Homo sapiens: one gene and its partner. The protein of the gene in region 1 interacts with the protein of each later gene in a biochemical or structural test. Each region holds a gene or a part of one and is shown on either strand. Other genes may lie near its edges.

Region 1 (7,388 bases):
ATGCTACTGCAATCCCTCTCACATACACCACTTGGCTTTTGTTTTTCTTTTTGTGTTTTTGTTAGAGACACACTCTCACTCTATTGCCTAGGCTGGAGTGCAGTGCTGTGATCACGGCTCACCGCAGCCTCGACCTCTTGGGCTCAAGTGATCCTCCTCCTTCAGCCTCTCCAGTAGCTGAGACTACAGGCATGCGCCACCACTCCTGGGTAATTTTTAAATTTTTTTAGAGACAGTGTTTTCCTTATGTTGTCCAGGCCGCTTTTAAAATTCCTGGGCTCAAGTGGTCTGTCTGCCTCGGCAACCCAGAGCATTGGGATTACAGGTGTGTGCACTGTGCCTGGCCTGTTTTTCTTTCCTGTGGCACTAACCGCCCCCACAGAGGGGAAAGTAAGCAGTGGAGCCCTGGGTTGAGGGCGGCTGTTGTAGGGGCAGGGACTGTCCACACTGTTACTTCTCCACTGCCCGCCTCCAACATAACCCCATCGTGGGAGCTGGGTGAGGAAATGCATGAGCACTGATTCTTCGCAGGATTTCGAGTGTTACACATGTGGTAATACTGCTCACATCACTTGAATCTGCAATCCCATGTGAAGTTGGAGTATGTGGCAAGAAGCAACTCTGCGAGGGTGGTGGGTGGAGGAGGGAGGGGCCCAACCCACAGGCCAGGAACCCATGTGAGGTGGCCGCCTTCCTCTGTCTCTTGCTAATACCTGGGTGATGGGCTTTATGCATCTTGACCCAGAAAAGAGCGAGTCACAATCGACCAATATGATGGAGGGGATATCACTGCACACCAGGCAAATACAGGCTCAGCTGCCAATTCCCACATCCCTCTAGCCCCTTTTGATGGCCAGGGAACTTTCTTGCTTCTGTTCACATGAAAACAACAGTTGGCCCTACCCATGTAACGAAGCAAACACTTACATACTGTGTACTTACTACATGCTGGGCACTGTTCTTAAACACTACCAGCACTGCCTGTATAATTCTCCCAGCAACCCTATGAGGTGGCTACAATCATTAGCCCCAGTTTACAGATGAGCCAATGGTTGCTTGGTGAGGTTTAGCCAATTGCACAGGCTTGCACAGCCAGTAAGTGGCCAGGCCAGGGTTTGGACCCAAGCCATGCAGCCCCAGAGTCTGTGCACTTCACCACAATGCGACGTGGCCTAGTCCCAAGGGGAATGGCTTGCCTTGTAGGCAATGAGCTGCCCATCATCGTGGGTGACAAGCAGAAGTGACTGAGCTAGACAGGGGTCTCCTCCACGTATTCAGTGTGTCCCCTGTGTGTAGCTCTGAGCTAAGCACTCTGCCAATGCCATCTCATTTCAGCCCGATGACACCACTGCCAGATGGAACCATTATTCCACTATATGGATGAACAAACTGGGTTTACAGAGATTAGGTAACTGGTCCGAGATCTCTGGCTGCTGAGGGCTGGAGCTGGGACTCAAACAAGTTTGCTTAATGCAGATCCCAAGCTCTTCACCTCTTATCAGGGATGGTGTCCAATGAGGGTTGGCTGGACTAGATGACTTTTACGGTCCTAGCCAATCCAAGATCCTGAGGGACTGAGAGTCTGGCAAGTAAAGGGGCACACTCCCCTAGTTACTAGCTCTAGCTCTCCCCTAGTAACTAGTTACTATGCCAAAAATACTAGTCATCACATTTCAGTTCTTTTTTTTTTTTTTGAGATTGAATCTCGCTCTGTTGCCCAGGCTGGAGTGCAGCGGCAGGATCTTGACTCACTGCAACTTCTGTCTCCCGGGTTCAAGCGATTCTCCTGCCTCAGCCTCCTGAGTAGCTGGAATTACAGGTGCACACCACCATGCCCGGCTAATTTTTTATTTTAGTAGAGATGGGTTTCACCATGTTGGCCAGGCTGGTCTTGAACTCCTGACCTCAAGATCTGCCCGCCTCAGCCTCCAGTTTGTTTGTTTTTCTTTTTTTTTTTTTTTTTTGAGATGGAGTTTTGTTCTTGATGCCCAGGCTGGACTGCAATGGTGCCATCTCTGCTCACTGCAATCTCCGCCTCCCAGGTTCAAGCGATTCTCCTGCCTCAGCCTCCTGAGTAGCTGGAATTACAGGCATGCACCACCATGCCCAGCTAATTTTTGTACTTTTAGTAGAGACGGGGTTTCTCCATGTTGGTCAGGCTGGTCTCGAGCTCCCAACCTCAGGTGATCTGCCCGCCTCGGCCTCCCAAAGTGAAGTGCTGGGATTACAGGTGTGAGCCAGTGAGCCGGGCCTATTTGAGTTTTTATGTTTAAGGATGTATTTCTCTTACTATTTTTTTTAACACAGGGTTTTTCCTGAAAAGTTGCCTGAGGAACAAAGAGTTAAATAAGACCCTTAAAGGATCAACTCTCTTTGCCAGGCATCTAAGTCCCCTCTGGGGCTTTGAGGAGACAGTCGCTGTCTTTCCTGGTGGTACCACCACCTTCCTTCATTCAACGCCGCCGCATCTGACAACCCTGGGCACAGGAATCTGCACCCCAGGTCTCCACGGTGAATCCAGCAGTCAATTTTCAGAGCTTGTCCTGCCTGCCCCATCCACACCGCTTGGCACATGGGTCAGCCCGCCTTTACTTACCTTCTTCATCTGGCTTCCCGGATGTCACATCTCTTGGTTTTTGGTTGGTTTTTCCAGTTGGCTTTTCCAATTTATACCTGCAGCATGGATCTCTCCTCTGAACTCCAGATACATAAATCTGTCTATTTGACATTGCCTTGGATGTCTAGAAGGCATTTCAAACTTAGCAGGTCCCACACTTAGCTCCTAATTGTCAGTCCTGCCTCCAGCACACGCCCCTCTCGGTGTTCCCCATCGCAGTCGAGGACAACTGCATTCTTCTAGTTTCTCAGGCCTCAAACCTTAGAATCATCCGAGACTCCTGTCTCTCACATATCTCATCTGTCAACGAATCCCATCAGCTCTACCTTCAAAATATGTCCAGAATCCACCACCTCCACTGCTAACACCTGGCTCACTATCTCCTAGTAACCTGGAGGGCACTGTCTTCAGTCTGATCTTCACACAGTAGCCGCAGTATGAAGACACAGGGTAGACCATGCCTCTCTTCTTCTCCAAACTCTCCAGTGGGTTCCTCCTAGTCAAAGTCAAACCTCACTTGGCCCTCTAGACCTCACCTCTGCATCCTCCCGCTGGCCTTATCTCCTCCACCTCTGACCCTTGCTAGCTCTATTTCAGCTCCACCGGTCTCCTGGCCATTCCCTGAACCTGAAACATGGTCTCCTACCCCAGGGCCTGTGCACTGGCTCTCCCGGTGAGGAAACCGCTCTCCTTCCCATCTCCACCGGCGCGTTGCATCCTTCACCTCTTTGCTCACATATCCCTTTCTCAGAGAAGCTTTTACTGAGGCCTCTGCTCACCCTCTTCTCCCCTCCACATTCCGTGTCTTCCTTTTCTATTTCGTTTCTCTCTATGGTACTTATGGCTTATGTAACAAACTAATCTATTGTTTATATATTTATTTTTACTGTTTCTCTGTGAAAACGTACACTCGAAAAGGGCAGGAGTTTTGTCTGTTTGGATCAGGCTCCACCCCTGGAAGGTAGGACAGTGTTCAGCACAGCAGGTGCTCAATAGGTGTTGTTTCGTGAATCAGCACATCAATTGCAGCATTGTGGCTACCAGGGGGTCAGGATGCGGGCGGTGGAGCCCTCTGGCCTTTGTGTGGTAGCCGAGGACTCTGTGTCAGCGACCGTTTTCCGGGAAACTTCCGGGCGAGACTCACATCTTGGAAATTCAAATACTCAATAGCTCTCGAATTCTAGGAATCTTGAGAAGAGGCCTGGATTAAGGATTCAGACGTGGGCCCTCAGATGGGTGAGAAACGGGGACTCTGTGTCTCCTAGCGGGGACAGAAGGGCCAGGTGACAGGCCAGGCAGAGTGGACGGGGCTTGGGCAGGGGGCGGGGGCAGGCAGCCACACGGGGCAGGAGCTGCAGAGCTAAAGCCAGGCCATGTGGACTGGCTGCGGGTTTCGCTGCCTAGCTGGTGGCATTGAGCAAGTTACTTAACCTTTCTGAACTTCCGTTTTATGATTTTGGAGGAAACAGTCATAGCTTTCTCTCTGGCAGAGTCCGATGGCCCGAGTCCCGCTCCACAGTGCGGGTGGAGGGCACGGAGGGGTGTGTGTGGGGGGCGACAGCCCAGGAAGACTAGGGGGCGGCAGGGCGCGTGGGGGCGGGGGTTGGGAGACCGCAGGGAGGATCCCCGACCTTGTCTGAAGATCCAAGCAGGCGGAGCCGCGGTCTGGTCCGCGGGGTAGGCGGGGCGCAAGAGTGTTCCCGGGGGCGGGGGGCCGACCCGCGTCTAAAGGTTTCCGCGATTCACCCGCCGGCGCCTGGCCTGGCCCAGTTGCACCACGAGCGCTGCGGACACTCGGGGCGGCAGTCGGTCTGTCAGTCCTCCCGCCAGGTCCCGCGGCCCGCACCTGCCGCCCGCACCTGCAGCTCCGCACCTGCGGCCAGTGCCTACTGCCCTCTCTTGCCGCCCGCACCTGCAGCCCCGCACCTGCCGCTTGCACCTGCAGCCCCGCGCTCTACCCGGTTCAAGCATGGCTGACCAGGCGCCCTTCGACACGGACGTCAACACCCTGACCCGCTTCGTCATGGAGGAGGGCAGGAAGGCCCGCGGCACGGGCGAGTTGACCCAGCTGCTCAACTCGCTCTGCACAGCAGTCAAAGCCATCTCTTCGGCGGTGCGCAAGGCGGGCATCGCGCACCTGTGAGTCGGGCCTTGGGCGGTGGGCCCCGTCCTGTCTGTCTGCCTGGGGAGCCTGCCCGGCGGGCTGACGTTGGGCCCTCTGAGCCTCCTGCCGTCAGCCTCTGTCTGTCCGTCTGATGTCTGAGCGCCTCTCTCGCTCTCTGTCTGGTAGCCCCTCTCTCCAGAAGCTGGCTCAGCCTCACTCAAGTCCTCATCTCCTCCCTTGACCTTGGAGGGGCCCACCTGGGGGTCCGTCTCACAGGTGTACACCTGATTCCATCTTGCATTCCTCTTCTCTGCCCTGAGCAGCCTGCCTCGTACCCCTCTCAGCCGGCCAAGTGTGGGCACCTGGCCTGCCCGTCATACCCGCCCTAGCCTCAGACAGGAAAGTGCTAGCTCAGGTGCCTTCCTTCCCCATTTCTTCTTTGTCCTCCTTCACTCTTTCTGCAATTAGGGACCCAAGTCAGGTTTCTAATCCAGTTATCTCTGACCTGAAACAAGACCTGTTAGGAGCGAGTGTCCCCCCCGCCCCCCCCGCAAGCAGGCTGGGAGGTCTCCTGTGTGTCCAGAGCCTTTAGGAGCAGCAGGGCTTGTGTGCAAAGGAGCTCCCGTGGGCTGCCCCTTGCTGGGACAGTTGCCATGCTGTGCCAGAAACAGGAAACACCCAGGGCTTCAAAACCCCTATCGATTTGCAATGATGGTGTGTGCAGCCTCTGCCCAATTAGTGGAAAGCTCAAAAGTGGTTTGTAGAATGGTTCTGAATGCGCTATGGAGTGCATCTCGAACGTCACTGGGCACAGGAATCATTTGGGGATCTTGGTAAGATGTGTGCCCTCCTTCCATAGCTCTGGGACAGGTCCTGAGATTCTGCATTTCTAAGAAGTTCTCCTGTGGTGGGTGCTGCCCATCAGATACTGTTTGTCTACTCATCACATTGTGAGTAGCAAGGGGTCAAGTGGAGTGGAGACTCAAAGGACCCCTTCTTGTGAGGTTTTTTGTAAGTCACACAACATCCTTTCGTTTGTGTTGGTGTGCACAGGTATTTTCTTTTTCTTTTCTTTTTTTTTTTTTTTTTGAGATGGAATTTTGCTCTTGTTGCCCAGGCTGGAGTGCAATGGTGCGATCTTGGCTCACCGCAACCTCTGCCTCCCAGGTTCAAGCGATTCTCCTGCCTCAGTCTCCCGAGTAGCTGGGATTACAGGCATGTGCCACCATGCCCAGCTAATTTTGTAATTTTTTTTAGTAGAAACGGGGTTTCTCCATGTTGGTCAGGCTGGTCTCGAACTCCCGACCTCCGGTGATGCCTTGGCCTCCCAAAGTGCTGGGATTACAGGCATGAGCCGCCGTGCGCAGGTATTTTCTAGCTAACTGATCCACACTTTTAACTGAAGTGTAACTGGGTTTTCAGATTGTCCATACACTTTACTAACATTCCCCGCACTTATGCACACTATAAAAATGACACATGATGGGCTGGGCGCGTAGGCTCTAGCCTGTCATCCCAGCACTTTGGGAGGCCGAAACAGGTGGATTGCCTGAGGTCAGGAGTTCAAGACCAACCTGATCAACATGGTGAAACCCCGTCTCTACCAAAAATTAGCTGGGTGTGGTGGCAGGCGCCTGTAATCCCAGCTACTCGGGAGGCTGAGGAAGGAGAATTGCTTGAACCCAGGAGGCAGAGGTTGCAGTGAGCCGAGATCGCATCATTGCACTCCAGCCTGCGCGACAAGAGCGTGACTTTGTCTTAAAAAAAAAAAAAAAAGACGCATGATGCTCAGAGCTGACCTGAACAAATACAACCCTGCTACTTGGGTTTGGAATGCATTTCTCCATTCTTAAAAACTCTTCTCCGCCCCGCATCCTGCAATCTAGATTCCTTTTCTTACTGGCAGGCTGTCTGGCTTTGGTCCCACAGTATGGACTGGTGGAGGTAATTCATGTAAAGGAGTGGTATGATCACATTTATTTTTGAATATTAAGCAGACATGTTAAGGAAGGTGATGACTCCATTACTGTTGCCTCTGGCCCCTCTTAATAATACATTCCTAAGGATTCTTATTTTAGAAACATACCCAGGTGAAATCTTAAGCTTTAATTTACAGCTAGTATAGGTGGCTCACAGCTTTAACTGCCTTTGAGGACCAGGGATATATTTTAAAAAGAGGGCTTGTCGACTGGGTGTGGTGGCTCACACCTGTAATCCCAGCACTTTGGGAGGCTGAGACGGGTAGATCACTCAAAGTCCAGGTGTTTGAGACCAGCCTGGCCAACATGGTGAAACCCTGTCTCTACTAAAAACACAAAAATTAGCCAGGCATGGTGGCAGGCGCCTGTAATCCCAGCTACTTGGGAGGCTGAGGCAGGAGAATTGCTTGAACCCGGGAGGCGGAGGTTGCAGTGAGCCCAGATCGTGCCACTCTACTCCAGCCTGGCGACCGAGTAAGACTCTGTCTCAAAAAAAGAAAAAAAAGGGCTTGTCATGTCTGATATTGTTTAAAAAATGTGTCAGTACCTTTCACACCCCTAGAGAGACTGAGAAATGTAAGATGTGTTTTGAGGTGTCCCACTGTCTAAGTAACCTTAGACAGTGGGACCTTGGATAGTGAGATTTTGATGGTGGGGCCTGGATGAAGCATGTTAATTTTGGCTACGT
Region 2 (7,025 bases), on another chromosome or scaffold:
TGACCTCTCCCTGCAAATGCCCACGGTGACCCTCGCTGACCTCAGGCCACACGCCTCAGGCCACGCTCCCACCCCCAAGCATTGGGTTTGGCTTTGCTCATGTCCATCCTGGTAGACAGCTCTCTACTGACTCATTAACAGACCAAGTCTCTGTCATCATCAGTAGTCCCCGATTACATCTTTCTGTCTGTGGACCTGACACTGGACTGGGATTATGAGAAAACCCAATTCAGTCTCCTCCCTGCCTCCAAATCTGGAAGGTGGCTCAGCTTACTCTTGGAGTCTTTTACTTCACTGTTAGGAATAATGATGCCTAACCTTGTTTTTGAAACAGGTGGAGCTAACAGGACATAGTATCTTTGACTTCACTCATCCCTGCGACCATGAGGAGATTCGTGAGAACCTGAGTCTCAAAAATGGTATCCTTAATTGTGTTTACTTCCTTCTTGCCCCCACTGGGTGGGAATCTGCCTCCCCTTTGTCTACGGGTATAAGGGAGATAGCTCATGGCCCTTGTGATGCAGGAAAAATGGATGTCCTTAAAAAATTTAAGTATGTAGCCTGTGAGATGAGATTGGGGCATTGAGAGGATCCAGTACTCAGAAATATCTCCTGCTGGCCCTGCATGGTGCCTGGTGTCCCACTACTAGGGGACACCTTTGGGTTAGGACACTGTCTCTAGGAGGTTTCATCACCCAAGAGTCAAGCATCTCTGCCAAATGACACCACCCAAACCAATGAGGAACTAGTCTGTGCCAAAGTGCTCATAGTAACTACTGTAGTTATCTATTGCTGTCTAACAAACCACCTATAACATAGGGCTTTGATGATTATCTCCCAGGGTTCTGTGGGTTCAGTGGGTGGGTCTTGTACTCCATGTGATGTCAGCTGGGCTGCAGTCATCTGGGGGCCAGACTAGGCTGGGGTGATCAGGATAGCTCACACACGTCTGGGACCTTGTGGCAGGTGGCTGGAACCCTGGACTCAGTTGGCATGCTGGGACAACAGGACTGTTCTCTCACTCTATGGAGACTCAGAGACTCTCCCTCTCCATATGGTGTCTCTAGGGTAGCCAGACATCTTACGTGGCAGTTTAGGGCTCCCAGAAGCACTAAAGTGGAAGCTGCCAGGCCTTCTGAAGGCTTTGTCCCCAGATTGGCAGAGCATCACTTCTGCCCCATCTTGTTGGTTAGAGCATGTTACAGGCCAGCCCTGGCTCATTGTGGGAGGAAACTACACGAAGCCATGAGTGTCAAAAGGCATGGCTTGTTGGAGCTACTTTTGGAGAAGAGCTACCACAGGAAATGGTACCCTGATGAGACGCAGGTCAAGTAGGTTTTGATGGAGAAGAGGTTTAAAAAGATGTAGCATTCAGGACCTTACCCATGGGGATACCCAGCAGGTGCCAGTAGATGAGAGGACCCACACAGGCAGAAAGCACGTTGCAATGGTTGCAATGGCAGTGGAGCTTCCTGTCTTGTAACTGTGGCCATTCAACAAAGGCATGAATAGGGACATTGTTAAGAGGACTGAAGCTTTGGTCAGAATTGGGGCTTAATGACTGTCAAGGTCCCTTCCAAACCTGAGATTCTGTCACTGGTCTGGGGAGATTCTGTGCATGTCTAGATGTCCTCTTTAACAACCTCACCTGTCACTGCCATGGGGCTTGTGCTTGTCCAGCCTGAATAACAGAGGCAGTGAGGCTAAGCCTACAAGGTTTGGCTCTTATTACCACACACGCTGCAAAAACAGACACTTCATTGGCTCACCTCCACCCTATTACAGACTGAGTCTGCAGTCCACATTTGGGCCTGCAAAGTACAGAATCACAACCACCTCCTCTTCTACCACTGCCACAGCTCCCTCACCCAGCTCCTCTGCTCTCTCTTCTGCAGGCCTTAGACCACCTGGGTCCTAGGGTACACTGGCAGAGAGCACCCTGTAGGCTGCTCAGTGTCTTGTCTGGTTCTGTGGGGAAAGGGCTACCAGACTTTCTAAAGCTCTCTAAAAAGAGGATTCATGTTCTGCATGGGTAGGTGCTTGAAGCCTGAGAAAGCCTGAGAAAACCAAAGACTGATTTCTTCTGTACTCCAGAAACCCTTTGGCCTTTGGGTTCTTAGTGTCAGTTCAGCCACTGACCATAGTCTGAGTTTGAGTCTGTGACCAGAAGCAAGTACCCTACTTCTCTGTTCCTCAGAGTCTTTCTTTTCAAATTGATGGTATTGGACTAGGCAAAGGCGACAACCTTTCAGTTCTCAAGTGCCATGATTCACAGCCAAGTGACCTCTAATTATCTGAGTAGAACTTTAGATCTCTTGATCTGCATATTGAGGACTTGGGATCAGTCAAACTCAATGCAACAGCAAATCTTCACTGAAGGTGCCAGCCTATGGGTGGACTCGTGATCTAGACCTAAAGGGTTAGTGTGAGTTCCTAGAGGAAAAGAAAGCCATGAGGCAGATTGTGGAAGGCTTTGAAGGCCAGGTGGAGGGCCTTGAACTTTATTCCATAGACAATGGGGAGCTATTGAAGGTTTCTGTGCAGGGGTGGAGTGATCTGTGTGGAGCAGTGTTTAGAAAGAATGAACAAGGCCAGGCACGGTGGCTCACGCCTGTAATCCCAGGACTTTCGGAGGCCAAGGTGGGTGGATCACGAGATCAAGAGATCGAGACCATCCTGGCCAACATGGTGAAACCCCATCTCTACCAAAAATACAAAAATTAGCTGGGCGTGGTGGCGCGTGCCTGTAGTCCCAGCTACTTGGGAGGCTGAGGCAGGAGAATCACTTGAACCCAGGAGGCAGAGGTTGCAGTGAGCCAAGATCACGCCACTGCACTCCAGCCTGGCGACAGAGCAAGATTCTGTCTCAAAAAAAAAAAAAAAAAAAAAAAAGATCAAATGTCAGCATGGGGAGAATCCAGAGGTTAGCAAGTTAAGAGGCCTCAATAATACCCCAGCAACAGCCACAAATGAATCCCTCCAGCCCCCTTATACCCAACAACTGGTCTGGTCCTGGTGGTGGGGCCAGATCCCAAGATACAGGTATATCTCATTGTATGCTAACCCCACCTCTGAAAATTAAAATGGCAAGAATCATAATTTGGTATGGGAGAAATGGTTTTATAATCGTGATGAAGGAATGTTCTCTCTTTTTTAAAAAAATTCACTATTCAGTCTGTTACTGAGTGGGGTCCCCTAAGGATGTTGAAGTTTTGTTCAAGGGTGCCACAGTTCCTTTGACACATAACTCTTCAGGAATATGTCAGTCAAGATCCTCTGGAAGTTTAAGTGCAGGGGCTGGTGACTGTTCCTGGAGGAAGGAGTGTGACTATTCGAAACAAGGCTCTAGATTGTTCTATGATGCTGGGTAGGGGGCAGGATTATATCTTTGAAAGTAGGTACCAGAGATGGTGGTGTAGGCAGGATTTAGACACAGACAAGTGGGATTCAGCTGGCACTCTTCATTACTTTGTTTTACAAAAAGTGGAAAATGGTTCTGAATCGGGAGGCTGTTTGGCAACTATAAGGAAGTAAGCTATATTGCTGGTCTTGGTGATTTAATTTTTGCTGAGAGAGAGGATATGATCCAGGTTGAGTTAATCCATAAAGTGGACTTGCTCACCAAGTCCACTGTAAGGAGATTCGTACCAGAGTTCTCTCTAGAGCCTTGATACATATGTCACTTCAGGGACAAAGCTAATGGCATGGTATCCTGAACACAGCTATTGCAGTTTGCAAATGGGGTACAGGAGGGGTTAAATTCCTCCTGAGAGACAGGTTATAAAGGAAAGACGGGAGTGTCGGAGAGACATTTCTAACCTGTGAGGAAGGCTTACACCCTTGGAGTAACTGTGGCCTCACTCAGACTGTCCCTTGGAATTTCTGCGAGAAGACCTGGGCCTGCCCCAGGAAAGGGTGGCTGAGTTAGTGGCTGATAGGCAGTCGTTGTGTCGCTGCTCTGAAGGCACCACTGACCATGTTCCAGATGCAATGGGAAATCAAATGATGGAGCAGCTCCTCCCTTGTGGGAGTTTATGCTCCAGTTGAGGAGATAAGCTTGAGAGTGGGAACCATTAGTTCACAGGCCATGATGGAGCTCAGTGTTGATGGCAGACCACAGGTGCTAAGAGAGCAGATATTTGGAAAATATAAACAATAGGCTGCCAAGAAAAACTGCAGCTGGGCCCCTCTCATGAATATCCATATAAAACTGACTTCAGCTGGTTCTTCCCATCCTTCCACATCCAGGCTCTGGTTTTGGGAAAAAAAGCAAAGACATGTCCACAGAGCGGGACTTCTTCATGAGGATGAAGTGCACGGTCACCAACAGAGGCCGTACTGTCAACCTCAAGTCAGCCACCTGGAAGGTAGGGCAACATCAGGCCTGGGTTGGAGTCCCAGGTGTAGGGTAACGGCGGTGCAGGGGATGCCTAAGGCCCTACCCCCACCCCCAGCACTCTCGGCTCCATGTCTGACCCTTCCACGCCTGTCTCAGGTCTTGCACTGCACGGGCCAGGTGAAAGTCTACAACAACTGCCCTCCTCACAATAGTCTGTGTGGCTACAAGGAGCCCCTGCTGTCCTGCCTCATCATCATGTGTGAACCAATCCAGCACCCATCCCACATGGACATCCCCCTGGATAGCAAGACCTTCCTGAGCCGCCACAGCATGGACATGAAGTTCACCTACTGTGATGACAGGTAGGGGGCCATGGGTGTGTATGCTGTGGGCAGAGATGGGTCTTACCTGTGTGTGTGGGGAGTTGTGCCTGTATTAAAGGTGTGGAACTGAACATAGACGTGGTATTGCCGGGTGCATGTTCGTGGACCTGTGCCACTGTTTCATTGCATCAGTGCCCCTCAGAGGTTCCCGGTACTGTATTTGGTGGTCTCCCATTGACAGAGCCTCAGGGTCCATCTGCAGAGCTTTCCTGGTGTGCAACTCTTCTCATCATTGTGGTGTGAACATATTTCTCCATACGTGTATCAGGCTCCTGAGGAAATTCTCAAGGCAGTCTTCTGCCCCAGGAGAAAGAGTCTAGAGACTTCCATCTGTACTCCTGCTTCAGAGGCCAGTAAGGAGCATCAGCTTCTGCCCTGGAGACTGACCCTCTTCCATTACTGACTGAGCCTTTCCCTCCGCCTTGTTCCTTCCTGCATGCAACTCCATTCCGGCCAGTGTCCAGCCATTTTGAAGAAGATGAAGGTAGCTGAGCCAGATGCTAACCCCCCAGTGCCAGGCCCAGTGTCTCTTAGGAGACACAGTAGTGATTAAGAGCATGGGCTTCAGGACTAGATGGCTTAGGTTCAAATTTAGTAATAAATGTTCAGTGTTAGCTCTTATTATCACCTTTATTAGAGTTGTTGAAAGAGTGCCTAAGACTGCTTAGGCATGTCATGCCATCTCGGGTTCTTAGCTCATTTAGAAGATTGAAGCAGGTGGGGAAGAGACTGGGGTTGTCATAGGAGGGAGTATTTAGATACCCTACAGCTCCTAACTCCCCCACCAGCCCTGCCTCTGGGACTGTGGAGCCTGATGATGGGAGGTAGGAGGAGGAAGATGGGGAGAACAGATGCCCGGAGCAATGGCCGGCCCCAGGGAGGGAAGGAAATGCAGAAGACTGGGCCCAGGGTAGGCCTGGCTTGAGTAAGCGCCACTGGGGCTTGCTGAGCAGCACCCCCCGCATGCGCCCTTCCTGGCAGAGATCTCCCTGCCTGACCTCAGCTTTCTGCAGCATCTAGAGCCGCCATGTGTCCCAGGGTGACAGTTCCTGTGGCAGCTCTTTGCCACCCCCAACTCTTTGCCACTCTTCTCTCATCTTCTAGGGTTTCTCCTCAGGAAACCCTCAGATCTCAGTTTCCCCTTCTCCAAAATAGAGATAACACTTTCTAACCTGTTTCATGGGGTCACTGTAAAATGAGATAATGGCTGTGCAAGCACTTTGAGAAGTCCAGACACCACAACACATGTGAGGCTTCTTGTTATTGCTTATATCTTACTTCCTGTCCTTGGCCTCCTCCAAAGCAAAATCTTCCACTAAACTCAAGGAGCTGAAACCACTTCTGAAGGCAGTTAGTGGCTGGGGGGCAGGAAGAGGAAGAATCTGACCCCCAGATCAGCAAGAATCTGCCTTGTCTTCCTCAGCTAGCAGGAAACCATGGAACCCCAGGAAAAAAAGCTCCTGCTCAGCCTCCCCTAGGCCTACCCACTTTTCTCTTATCAGCTGGACATCCCAAGGGCATCTGGTTTCTTCATGGGAGGGACCCTCCTCTCCAGGATGGGGTTTCTCTCCTCTGATTCCAGACCGGCCTGGTGTTGGTTGGTCGCCCCTTCTTAGAGTTGGCCACCACTTGTGGCACAATTTCAGAACTTTTGTAAAAGTATCCTTGAGTCATTCCTGTCCTTCAGTTCTGACCACAGTAGGGCCAGGATTCACAGCCTTTGGAGCTAGTGGGTAGTTATATAAGTAGAAAGAAATGCTCTAACCTCATAGGGAGAAAATGTCATGCATGAAGCCTTCCGTCCTGGAACTTCGACACAGTCACCATTTATTGTAATTGTTAGTGGTGGTGGTGGTGGTGGTGGTAGTGGTGGTGGTGGTGGTGGTGGTGGTGGTGGTGGTGGTGGTGATAATGATGGTGGTTCAAGAAGAAGATTGCACTTTTAGTGACAGGCACTGCAGGAATCCATGTTATAGGTAAGGTTATTTATCAGATGCAGTCTTTGTATTCAGGTGAACATTCTGGGCAGAAGACACAGCTTTGTGTACCTCAGTAGTCTTGTGAGATAACATGGACAATCCCACTGCATAGCCCCTGTGTCACTGGCTTTGAGGTGAAGTGGCTCAAGCCGACGTAGCCATATAGCCTGGGAGCATATATAGTGCTGGGGATGATGAAAGTCAGATACGTGCTTCACCCTGGTGAATGAAGCACATCCGTAACATAACTCCATAAGCACTGGGAAAACCCTACTGTCCTAGAAAATAACTTGGCATCCCTACATAATAGAAAAGAGATTTTTT

The links.
Region 2: the proteins of FBP1 (region 1) and EPAS1 form a complex in vitro, tested with the Homo sapiens proteins (one study listed by IntAct).

What each region holds. Positions count from the first base shown.
Region 1 is NC_000009.12:94,636,509-94,643,896, reverse strand, and holds the start of FBP1 (fructose-1,6-bisphosphatase 1), read left to right. Parts: upstream 1-4,378; 5' UTR 4,379-4,586; coding exon 4,587-4,756; intron 4,757-7,388. UniProt on the Homo sapiens protein: Catalyzes the hydrolysis of fructose 1,6-bisphosphate to fructose 6-phosphate in the presence of divalent cations, acting as a rate-limiting enzyme in gluconeogenesis. Plays a role in regulating glucose sensing and insulin secretion of pancreatic beta-cells.
Region 2 is NC_000002.12:46,356,390-46,363,414, forward strand, and holds part of EPAS1 (endothelial PAS domain-containing protein 1), read left to right. Parts: intron 1-334; coding exon 335-419; intron 420-4,248; coding exon 4,249-4,367; intron 4,368-4,495; coding exon 4,496-4,701; intron 4,702-7,025.